3 linked regions of the Homo sapiens genome follow. The protein of the gene in region 2 interacts with the protein of the main gene of each other region in a pairwise test. Each region holds a gene or a part of one and is shown on either strand. Other genes may lie near its edges.

Evidence for each region.
Region 1: the proteins of ERP29 (region 2) and SLC35B4 interact in binary tests that used the Homo sapiens proteins (3 or more experiments, as listed by UniProt).
Region 3: the proteins of ERP29 (region 2) and ADIPOQ interact in binary tests that used the Homo sapiens proteins (3 or more experiments, as listed by UniProt).

The regions. Positions count from the first base shown.
Region 1 is NC_000007.14:134,292,931-134,296,583, reverse strand, and holds part of SLC35B4 (nucleotide sugar transporter SLC35B4), read left to right. Parts: intron 1-117; coding exon 118-193; coding exon of another isoform or gene 194-272; exon of another isoform or gene 273-1,504; coding exon 1,505-1,751; 3' UTR 1,752-3,653. UniProt on the Homo sapiens protein: Antiporter that transports nucleotide sugars across the endoplasmic reticulum (ER) membrane in exchange for another nucleotide sugar.
Region 2 is NC_000012.12:112,019,903-112,023,555, forward strand, and holds the end of ERP29 (endoplasmic reticulum resident protein 29 isoform 1 precursor), read left to right. Parts: exon of another isoform or gene 1-13; intron 14-673; exon of another isoform or gene 674-2,247; coding exon 2,248-2,750; 3' UTR 2,751-3,547; downstream 3,548-3,653. UniProt on the Homo sapiens protein: Does not seem to be a disulfide isomerase. Plays an important role in the processing of secretory proteins within the endoplasmic reticulum (ER), possibly by participating in the folding of proteins in the ER.
Region 3 is NC_000003.12:186,852,642-186,855,921, reverse strand, and holds part of ADIPOQ (adiponectin precursor), read right to left. Parts: exon of another isoform or gene 2,872-3,280; 5' UTR 2,864-2,871; coding exon 2,650-2,863; intron 2,145-2,649; exon of another isoform or gene 2,050-2,144; intron 1,790-2,049; exon of another isoform or gene 1,739-1,789; coding exon 1,218-1,738; 3' UTR 1-1,217. UniProt on the Homo sapiens protein: Important adipokine involved in the control of fat metabolism and insulin sensitivity, with direct anti-diabetic, anti-atherogenic and anti-inflammatory activities.

The sequences.
Region 1 (3,653 bases), on a different chromosome or scaffold from region 2:
TGCAAGGAAGACAATGTTGCTGTTCCTATTATGTTCAGTCTGTATTACCCTGTTCAAAAGATGAAAAATTCAGCTGTGAAAAAGCAATATGGCTATATCCTCTTGTAACCTCTACAGAGTTATATGAAATTCCCGTCATCGGAGTGACCCTGCCCATCATGTGGTTCTACCTCCTCATGAACATCATCACTCAGTATCCTTTGGACTGTGCCGTCACCCTTATGTCATCATCAGGTTCTTTTGGCACAGGAATGGTCATTCTTTTCTTCTAACAGTGTGTTGACTTGAATATGATTTTCGCTGGATTTATTCTGCGGTAAGCTGGAGACAGAGACCAATTCAGGGAACTCCTTGTAGAGGGCAGAAGAGATGCTAGTGGTGTAGTAGGTCAGTAAGGCACAGGGCAGCAGGAGGAAGTGCTCTGAGTGGAAGTGTAGGAGTCCATTGATTGATAGTGGCGGGTGTGGTGGCTCACGCCTGTAATCCCAGCACTTTAGGAGGCCGAGGCGGGCAGATCACTTGAGGTCAGGAGTTTGAGACCAGCCTGGCCAACATGGTGAAACCCCCTCTCTACAAAAATACAAAAGTAAGCCAGGCATGATGATGGGTGCCTATAATCCCAGCTACTCCATAGGCTGAGGCAGGAGAATCGCTTGAACCCAAGAGGTGGAGGTTGCAGTGAGCTGAGATCATGCCATTGCACTCCAGCCTGGACAACAGAGTGAGACTCCATCTCAAAAAACAAACAAAGAACTACTGTATAGCATAAATCATCTGTGATTTGTACCTGTGATTTTTTGGTGTCCTAAGATATTTCCAGTGATCACAAGCTGCTGCAAAGTCCTGAAAGAAATTTCAAATTACCAGCTACTTAGGAGGCTGAGGTGGGAGGATCGCTCAAGCCCAGGAGATCGAGGCTGCAGTGAGCTTGATCACTCCACTGCACTCTAGCTTGAGTAACAGAACAAGACCCTGTCTCAAAAAAAAAAAGAAATTTCAAAGTAATCAAGTTTTCGTTTTTTAAAATGGTTATTTCGAATGACCTTACTTTCATTATAAAAATAATTATGTCTTTGAAATAGTGAAACGAATCGAGATTGACCTCATTCCTCTGAAGTCAGCTCCTAGATTTGCCAGAGTCCCTTTCTGGAGGAGGGGATAGAAGGGCTGGAGGCAAGATAAATAAAGGTGAATGGGATCACCCTTACCGAGAGCGTCACCCTCTGTCATTATCTTGGAGGTGCCTGTCATTGTAACCATAGGAAGACTCCAACATAAGAATAATTGGGGGTTTTTTGGCGGTTTCAAATTGGTACCCATAAATGGAATGGCAGGACAGGAGTTGTTCTGCAGGTTCTCCCCAGGAGGAGCCTCAGAGCTGCCGTAGCGGACCTTCATGTTTTCTTAGAATATGAGAAGTTAAACCAGGGACCATGCCAGAAGGTTCTCTCACTGATCCCCCAAGTACAGTCTACAGAAAACTACCTTGACTCCACTCCTCCAGGTACGTGTGCATCCGGGGTGTGTTTATCCTCACCACAGAATGCGCCTCCCTCACCGTCACGCTCGTCGTGACCCTACGCAAATTTGTGAGCCTCATCTTTTCCATCTTGTACTTCCAGAACCCCTTCACCCTGTGGCACTGGCTGGGCACCTTGTTTGTCTTCATTGGGACCTTAATGTACACAGAGGTGTGGAACAACCTAGGGACCACAAAAAGTGAGCCTCAGAAGGACAGCAAGAAGAACTGAGGCCTGTCTGGAGTACGTAGACCAGTGTCGTCGTGAGGGTGGGACCCTGTGAAGGTCTGACCACCGTTTCGCTTTTGTTAATGCCGAGCTACCCGCAGTGCTGAGCCAGCCGTGCAAAAGGAAATCTTCAGGAGGGGACTTCTCACGTTGCTCAGACTGACACATGTAGACTAAATAGAAACCCCTCAGCCCTAAAATAGAAAAAAGAACAGTTCTGGACTATTGAACAGCCCATTCATTTATTTCTGTTTTGTTTACCGACATATTCAGTATTATTCTTGTTTTCTGAATTCTGAGTCTCCTGAACAAAAGGCTTACTATCCATGGTCTTGGAAAAGATTGTCCCTTCTCTTGCTGTTGTAATGCATCTCTGCTACAGCAGTCATTGTCATCCTGTGACCTTATCCCTTTTGTCTCCCATCACCTTTTCCTTCTTCAGCAGCACCTCACAGTCAGTCAGACGCTGCAGGCACCACTATCACCAGGAGTGGCCAAGTAAACCGAGACACCAGTAACAGCAGGGCTGGACTTCCTCCAGCGTTTTGGGAAGGAAAGAGATGTTCCCCTGAGCTGATTCCCAGTGACAGTGCAGCAAGACTAGTGGGACTCCTCTTTCCCACATTTTGCTTTTTTTTTTTTCTATGCAAAAGTCAGATGCTTCTATCCATTGCTTTCTGTGATTAGGGCGGCCCTGCAGCATATCTCACAGCAGACACAGTGTTCATAACAAAGAAAGGTTGTGCCGGGCACGGTGGCTCACACCTGTAATCCCAGCCCTTTGGGAGGCTGAGGTGGGTGTATCACTTGAGGTCAGGAGTTCAAGACCAATCTGGCCAACATGGTGAAACCCCATCTCTACTAAAAATACGAAAATTAGCTGGGTGTGATGGCGCATGCCTGTAATCCCAGCTACTTGGGAGGCTGAGGCAGGAGAATCACTTGAACCCGGGAGATGAAGGTTGCAGTGAGCTGAGGTCGTGCTACTGCACTCCCGCCTGGGTGACAGAGTGAGACTCTATCTCAAAAAAAAAAAAAAAAAAGAAAGGTTGTTATGGACTGGACACCCCTGAAGCCCATTGCCTAGGCCACAGTGGTGACGGCAGGATGGCCCTGCTCAGCACCGCAAGAGCCATGGCTGTCCCTGTTGGCCCAGCCGGGCACTCACAGGGCAGAAGGGTGGGTCTCAAGTGGGAGGATAAGGCTTCACCACCAGGAGATTCCCCTCTGCCCGATGACTCTGTTAAGAGTCACGACCCATCAAGGGAATGCATAGATGGAGATATATAGTGTGTGATGTGTAAATCAGGTCAAACCTCAACGACAATTGAAAGTTGTTATTGTCCTATGAGGTATCTTAGCATTCTCGATGGGTATTGAGGATGGTTGGATGTGCTTTATTGTGTGTGGAAACATGCCTCTCTTTGCTAATCATTTCAGAGGTCCAGTTTTCCTTTCACTGGACAATCTTGAATAGGAGGAACGCTGTTGCTGTAATATGCGTAGCTTCTGTGTGCTCTTGTGTAGTCTGTGTGTGATCAAAGGGCACGGAAGTGGCTGCACTTTCACATCCCTTTTCTTTACTTAGCTGGAACCTTACATACCAGTACATGCTCCTCTGTAAGCAGCTGAACTCACCGGCCACTTCTCTGTTTGCCTATAGACAAAGACTGTGTGTGTGTGTGTGTATGTATGTGTGTGTGTGTGGTGCACACATTGTGTTCTTAAACTGAGACGTGGCTCTGCAGGTCTCCTGGGCTCATTCCATGGTGTGGTATGTTTATTCCACTGTCCAGAGCTATTCTCTGATGGATTTGAGCAACAGCAGTGGAGATAAATGTCCTAGAGTCACCAGGTCGCTTGGAGAAGTCATTTAAGCTGCCTCGGGTTTTTGTTACTTAAAAT
Region 2 (3,653 bases):
AAGTCCAGGACGGCTGGGGGGGCAGAGAGGGAGGAAGCTAGAAATCGTTTCCCTACTTGGAACAGGAATACCCAGCATCTTTCCTTCTGAGCCACTCTCAAGGAGTGTAAGTAAACAGGTTCATGGTCTCTAAAGGAATCTGCTGCCCACAGTAGGCTTAACCTGAGCAGATTTTGGGACCATGGAATCTAAGCTCAGCTGTACAGGTGCCTGAAGGGAAGGGAACCCCTCTTCCTTCACATTCCACCCCTCTCTGACATTAAACTGTGAGAACTTTGAGCTCTCCTTGCAGGGAACACTGGGCAGAGGGGGTGCTATGTCCCCTAGGGGACAGCATAGTCAGTTCTTCTGTCTTCATTTCAGTTTATGTACCAAAACTGTTAGGTTTTGGTGTTAGCTCAAATGCACTGATGCCACCACTAATCCAAGGGCACCTCCCAACCACAGCGACAGCTTTAATAGTCACCAGCATTTAGTGGCTGACAGGGTAAAGATCTGCACCCCCATTGCATTTTAAATCTTCACTTGAACTCTGCCTGAGAAGCAAGATGTATTATCTCCATGTTATACTTCAGGAAAAAAAAAACTGAAGCTCAAAGATTAAAGGACTGTGGGTGATAGAGTGGCTCATCCAGAGCTCCACCTAAGTGTTTAGTCCCAGGCAGGGGCTTACTTATTTCACTTCCCTCCCAGCTTGGATGCCTCCATTCCGTAGTAAGCTGGGAACTTAGTAGAGCGTCTGGTCCTGGGTAGAGATAGCTGGCACACCTCTCCAGGACAGTCAGTCAGATTTGACTCAACTTCAGGTAACTCCCTTGGTGCTTTTATTAGAATAATAATAATAGTTAACATTTATCAGATGTTTACTGCGTGCCAGGCCGCTGTGCTGAGTGTTTTACATGTGTTTCATCTTTGCAAGAGCTCTGTGAAGGAAGTCCCATGTGGTACTATTACCTCCATTTTTTCAAATGAAGAAATGGATGCTTAGAGTAACTTGCTCAAGATTGTGGAATTGTTAAGTGGCAGAACTAGGTTTGGAACCCTAGGCATCCAGTACTACCACTACTAGTAGTTGGTCTTAGCCGTTTCTCGGCAAAGTGTAAGAAACCAGTTGTCACAGCATCAGTCCTTGGGGCTGCTACTGCTCGTTAGGAAGGATGTTGCAGATACTAACAGCAGCTACCACATATTAAGCATATAACCCTGCCAAGTATCACGCACATATTCCCTCATCCGGTCCTCCCAACAGCCCCCATGTGGCAGGGACTGTGTTCCTTCCCTACCACATGCTCCCCTTTCTCACCCAGCTCCAGCCAGACTGGTCTTTGTAATCCTGAAATTTCCTGAGCTTAGCCCTGCCTCAGAGCTTTTGCACTTGCAGTCCTTTCTGCCTGAGACACTCTTCCCAAATCTTCACGTAGCTTGCTCCAGGACATTCAGGTCCTTTAGCTGATGTCACCTTCACAGGGAGGCCTGCCTTGACCACCTGAAGTGGGCTTTCTTACCCACTTTGTCACATCGCGCTGTTTTGTTTTCCCTGTGGCATTCATCACCTGTGTTTATGTGTTTGTTATGTCTCTTCTCTCCCTTAGAAGAATATGAGCTTAATAGTCTTTTTTTTTTTTTTTTTTTTTTTTTTGAGACAAAGTCTCACTCTGTTGCCCAAGCTGGAGTGCGGTGGTGGGATCTCGGATCACTGCAACCTCCACCTCCTGGGTTCAAGCGATTCTTCTGCCTCAGCCTCTTGAGTAGCTGGGACTACAGGCACGCGCCACCATGCCCTGCTAATTTTTTTGTTATTTTTAGCAGAGACAGCGGTTTCACTATGTTGGCCAGGCTGGTCTTGAACTCCTGACCTCGTGATCTGTCCGCCTCGGCCTCCCAAAGTGCTGGGATTACAGGCATGAGCCACCGCACCCGTCCGAGCTTAATACTCTTAATCACAAGTAGACCCCCAGCACCTAGAACAGCATCTGACACATAGTGGGCATATAATAAATATTCAGAAGAATCTCCATTTTTTCAGATGAAGAACAGTTCAGAGAGTTTAAATGATTTGCCTAGTGCTGCATGGCTAGGAAGTGGCAGAGGAGGAATTCAAACACAGGTCTGTATGGTTGCTCCTCACTTTGAACCATTACACGGCCAAGAAAATTCTTCTTTCCCTCAGTTCAGCTAGGTCCCATAGCAATTTTCTGCCCTGAGTTCCTTATGGTCTTGCTTTTTGTGTCTGGTTTCTGCTCACAGATTATGGTGACAAGCTGAACATGGAGCTGAGTGAGAAATACAAGCTGGACAAAGAGAGCTACCCAGTCTTCTACCTCTTCCGGGATGGGGACTTTGAGAACCCAGTCCCATACACTGGGGCAGTTAAGGTTGGAGCCATCCAGCGCTGGCTGAAGGGGCAAGGGGTCTACCTAGGTATGCCTGGTTGCCTGCCTGTATACGACGCCCTGGCCGGGGAGTTCATCAGGGCCTCTGGTGTGGAGGCCCGCCAGGCCCTCTTGAAGCAGGGGCAAGATAACCTCTCAAGTGTGAAGGAGACTCAGAAGAAGTGGGCCGAGCAATACCTGAAGATCATGGGGAAGATCTTAGACCAAGGGGAGGACTTCCCAGCATCAGAGATGACACGGATCGCCAGGCTGATTGAGAAGAACAAGATGAGTGACGGGAAGAAGGAGGAGCTCCAGAAGAGCTTAAACATCCTGACTGCCTTCCAGAAGAAGGGGGCCGAGAAAGAGGAGCTGTAAAAAGGCTGTCTGTGATTTTCCAGGGTTTGGTGGGGGTAGGGAGGGGAGAGTTAACCTGCTGGCTGTGAGTCCCTTGTGGAATATAAGGGGGTAGTGGGAAAAGTGGTACTAACCCACGATTCTGAGCCCTGAGTATGCCTGGACATTGATGCTAACATGACCATGCTTGGGATGTCTCTAGCTGGTCTGGGGATAGCTGGAGCACTTACTCAGGTGGCTGGTGAAATGACACCTCAGAAGGAATGAGTGCTATAGAGAGGAGAGAGGAGTGTACTGCCCAGGTCTTTGACAGATGTAATTCTCATTCAATTAAAGTTTCAGTGTTTTGGTTAAGTGGACCTGAAGCCATTCTTTTTTCTTTTCAAATTATACTTTCGTCTATGACCTGCTTTCCTCTTTGAATCTAAGCTGGTATAGACTCCACTTTCCCAGGGTAACAAACTATCCTCATAACACTGTGGAAACTGGCATACCTTTGTTATTTTCCAGTGATATTCAGACTGACATGGATTGACTGTCAATGGTAAAGTTTGTCTATTTTCCAGTCCTTAAAACTCAATAGCAGTATTGATGAATATATTGAACCAACATTGATGGACCATGGTGTAATTATTTTCCATGCTTTGTGAGGTACACATAGCAAATTCTTAGTTTTACTGATATATTCTGTGACTTGGATTTACACAGCTAAATGATATAGTCCGATTTCAAAATTAAAAAATATTTTCCATCTAAATCACTATCACTAAATAAATACTAACTTCTAGAAAGCAGAATAAAGAGCACTTGTGCCAACATTCACATCTTTTCTTCAGACTCAGAAGCAGTTATCTGCAAAAGTGAGCTTCACGACAGCTCTACTTTCATATTTAACCATTTGAAAATGTCATGAGACCACAGCTC
Region 3 (3,280 bases), on a different chromosome or scaffold from region 2:
AGATATGGGATTCAAGAGATTGGTCTTCATGAGGCATTTATCAAGGATCTGCAAGGGATTTAGAGGTGACGGAAGCACAGTCCTTCCTGGGCAGTTGCCTCTAGCCTGGTGGGAGGTGTTCCTCACACCCAGGACTCTCATCCATGGCAAAATAAAAAGTGAGATATCGACTGGGCATGGTGGCTCATGCCTGTAATCCCAGCACTTTGGGAGGTCGAGGCGGGTGGATCACCTAGGCCAGGAGTTCGAGACCAGCCTGGCCAACATGACGAAACCCCATTTCTACTAAAAATACAAAAATTAGCCATGTGTGGTGGAATGCACCTGAAGTCTCAGCTACTCGGGAGGCTGAGGCACAATAATTGCTTGGACCCAGGAGAAGGAGGCTGCAGTGAGCCGAGGTCGTGTCACTGTACTCCAGCCTGGGTGACAGAGTGAGACTCCATCTCAAAAAAAAAAAAAGTGGATATCACATCAGAGAAGCTCCTGGCCAGGTGGCCTTGAGGAACAGGGATGAGTTCGGCACTTAGAGATGGAGTTGGCTTTCCCCGTTGGAGGGAAAGGCATGAGAAGGGACATAGGTAAGAGGAAGTAGAGTAGTGCAGGGGCCATTGAGTAGTAGTCCTTCCAAGACAGGACGTCATCATAGAACCACTTTCTCTGAGGAAGCTCTGCTTGGGGGAGGTTTTAATTCATGAGGAAGGCAAATTCAATGGCTCTCAGGTGAGGTGGGAAACAGACACCTACCAACACTCCAAAGAGAACATGTACCTCTATAAAAGGGCACAGTCTAGTGAACAAAGTCCACAGCTCTGGGTTTGATTTCTAGCACTGTCACTTAATACTGTGTGACCTTAGACATTCACTTAACTCTCTCAGCCTCAGGATACAATCTGTAAAAACAGGAGAATGCTTGTTCCCTGTGCCTTATAGGATTGATATGAGCATCAGGAGAGACAGTGGGCACAAAATAGCACTGTCAACTACTTCTTTCTAGTCAGTTATCTGGTCATGTTTGTGAAGCTCCCCAGGACTGGGAACATAGCATATGATTTTTTTAAAGTTACTCGATGAATGAATGAATAAATGAATGAGTAAATGAATGAATAATATCTAAAGGCCTCCAACTAAATAATAATCAACTTCCTAACCGTACTGAAAGCCTTTAATTGACTTTGGGGCTGTTTGGCCTGGAGGAGGCTCTGAGTTAGTGGTGATCAGTTGGTGTCATGGTAGAGAAGAAAGCCTGTGAAGGTGGAGTCATTGTCATTATCAGCATAGAGTCCATTACGCTCTCCTTCCCCATACACCTGGAGCCAGACTTGGTCGCCCACCTCCAGATGCAGGAGCACAGAGCCGGAGGCCTGGTCCACATTATTTTCCTGGTACTGATCATAGGTGAAGAGCATAGCCTTGTCCTTCTTGAAGAGGCTGACCTTCACATCCTTCATATAGACTGTGATGTGGTAGGCAAAGTAGTACAGCCCAGGAATGTTGCAGTGGAATTTACCAGTGGAGCCATCATAGTGGTTTTGCTGATTGTAGAAGATCTTGGTAAAGCGAATGGGCATGTTGGGGATAGTAACGTAAGTCTCCAATCCCACACTGAATGCTGAGCGGTATACATAGGCACCTTCTCCAGGTTCTCCTTTCCTGCCTTGGATTCCCGGAAAGCCTCGGGGACCTTCAGCCCCGGGTACTCCGGTTTCACCGATGTCTCCCTTAGGACCAATAAGACCTAAGGAATGAGAAGACCTCAGTGACTACAAAGAACAGAACTCCTGCCTAGGTTGGTTACAGCCTAAATTACCATCCCTGTGGCTCCCACTCACAACCTTCTTGACTTATAGATCAAGAAACCAATAAGAGCTCCCAAAAGGAGAGAGGTGTTACCTCCTCCTTCTATATCTCCCACAGACATGGAGGCTCCCATAATTTCAACTCTATCTTTATCTCCTATAGGTCTCTATCATAGACCCTCCACCCTGCCAGCCCTTTATGTGCTGGCACCATCAACCCTGGTTTTGCAATTCTACCCCCTCCATCTAGGATGTCTCTCCTCCTCTATTCTGCCTACCCATCATTCAAGGCCTAGCTGAAGCTCTGCCTCCTCCTTGAAGCCTTCATTCTTCATCAGGTCCACGGTGAGTATATTTTCTCTATGCTCCATACTTTGAATACTTGTTCACATTCAGTTTGACATTTTTAGAGTAGACTTTCTTGTAGTAACCACCAACAGAGCCTTGCACATTAGACATCTTACCTAGATCAAGAGTTCCCCAAAGGCAGGACTGAGCCTTTCAGGGGGTGTGCAGTAAATGTGGTTGAATGCCACTGGGTGAAATGGAAGTTAAGCAGACAGAAAGAGGAATCAGAATATGAATGTACTGGGAATAGGGATGAGGGTGAAGATGGGAAAGGGGATGGAAAAGGAGCTGCAGATGCAGCAAAGCCAAAGTCTTGGTTATAGAGGCACCATCTACACTCATCCTTGGAAGACCAACCCCAAATCACTTCAGGTTGCTTATGGTTAACATAAAAAAGCTTTGCTTTCTCCCTGTGTCTAGGCCTTAGTTAATAATGAATGCCTTCATATAGTTTATATCAGTGTAGGAGGTCTGTGATGAAAGAGGCCAGAAACATTCTTACCTGGATCTCCTTTCTCACCCTTCTCACCAGGGGTGCCATCTCTGCCATCACGGCCTGGGGCCCCATTATGGCCCGGATGCCCTGGGATGCCCGCCATCCAACCTGTGCAGGCCCCCTTGGGCAGGGGAAGCAGGACTCCGGGCCCTTGAGTCGTGGTTTCCTGGTCATGACCGGGCAGAGCTAATAGCAGTAGAACAGCTCCCAGCAACAGCATCCTGAGCCCTGGAATCCACATGTGCACTGTCAGCCATGGAGAGACAGACCCCACACACACACCCAGTTGGGACCTACAAAGGACTCCGTCCATCTCAGCAGAGTCTACTTCTAGGAGCTGCTTTCTAAGTATTCAACTTTTCCAGGAAGACTTTTCTGAATATTGCAGCCCACCTTGATCTCTTTCTGCCCTGAAATCTGTAATACTTAGCATTATTCCCTGTGTGTAGTCTCCTTTCCTCACCAAGATTATGAATTCAGTGATTGCACAGATGACACTCCTCTAATTTTCCCATGTCTGAGCACAGGACCAAGCACAGGGAAAGCTCCAAGAGTCGACTTGCCAAGAATCCATCCTTGGGTTTCCCAAGTACGATGACACAGATTGCTCCATTCAATGCTAACCAGCTTCTCTCCT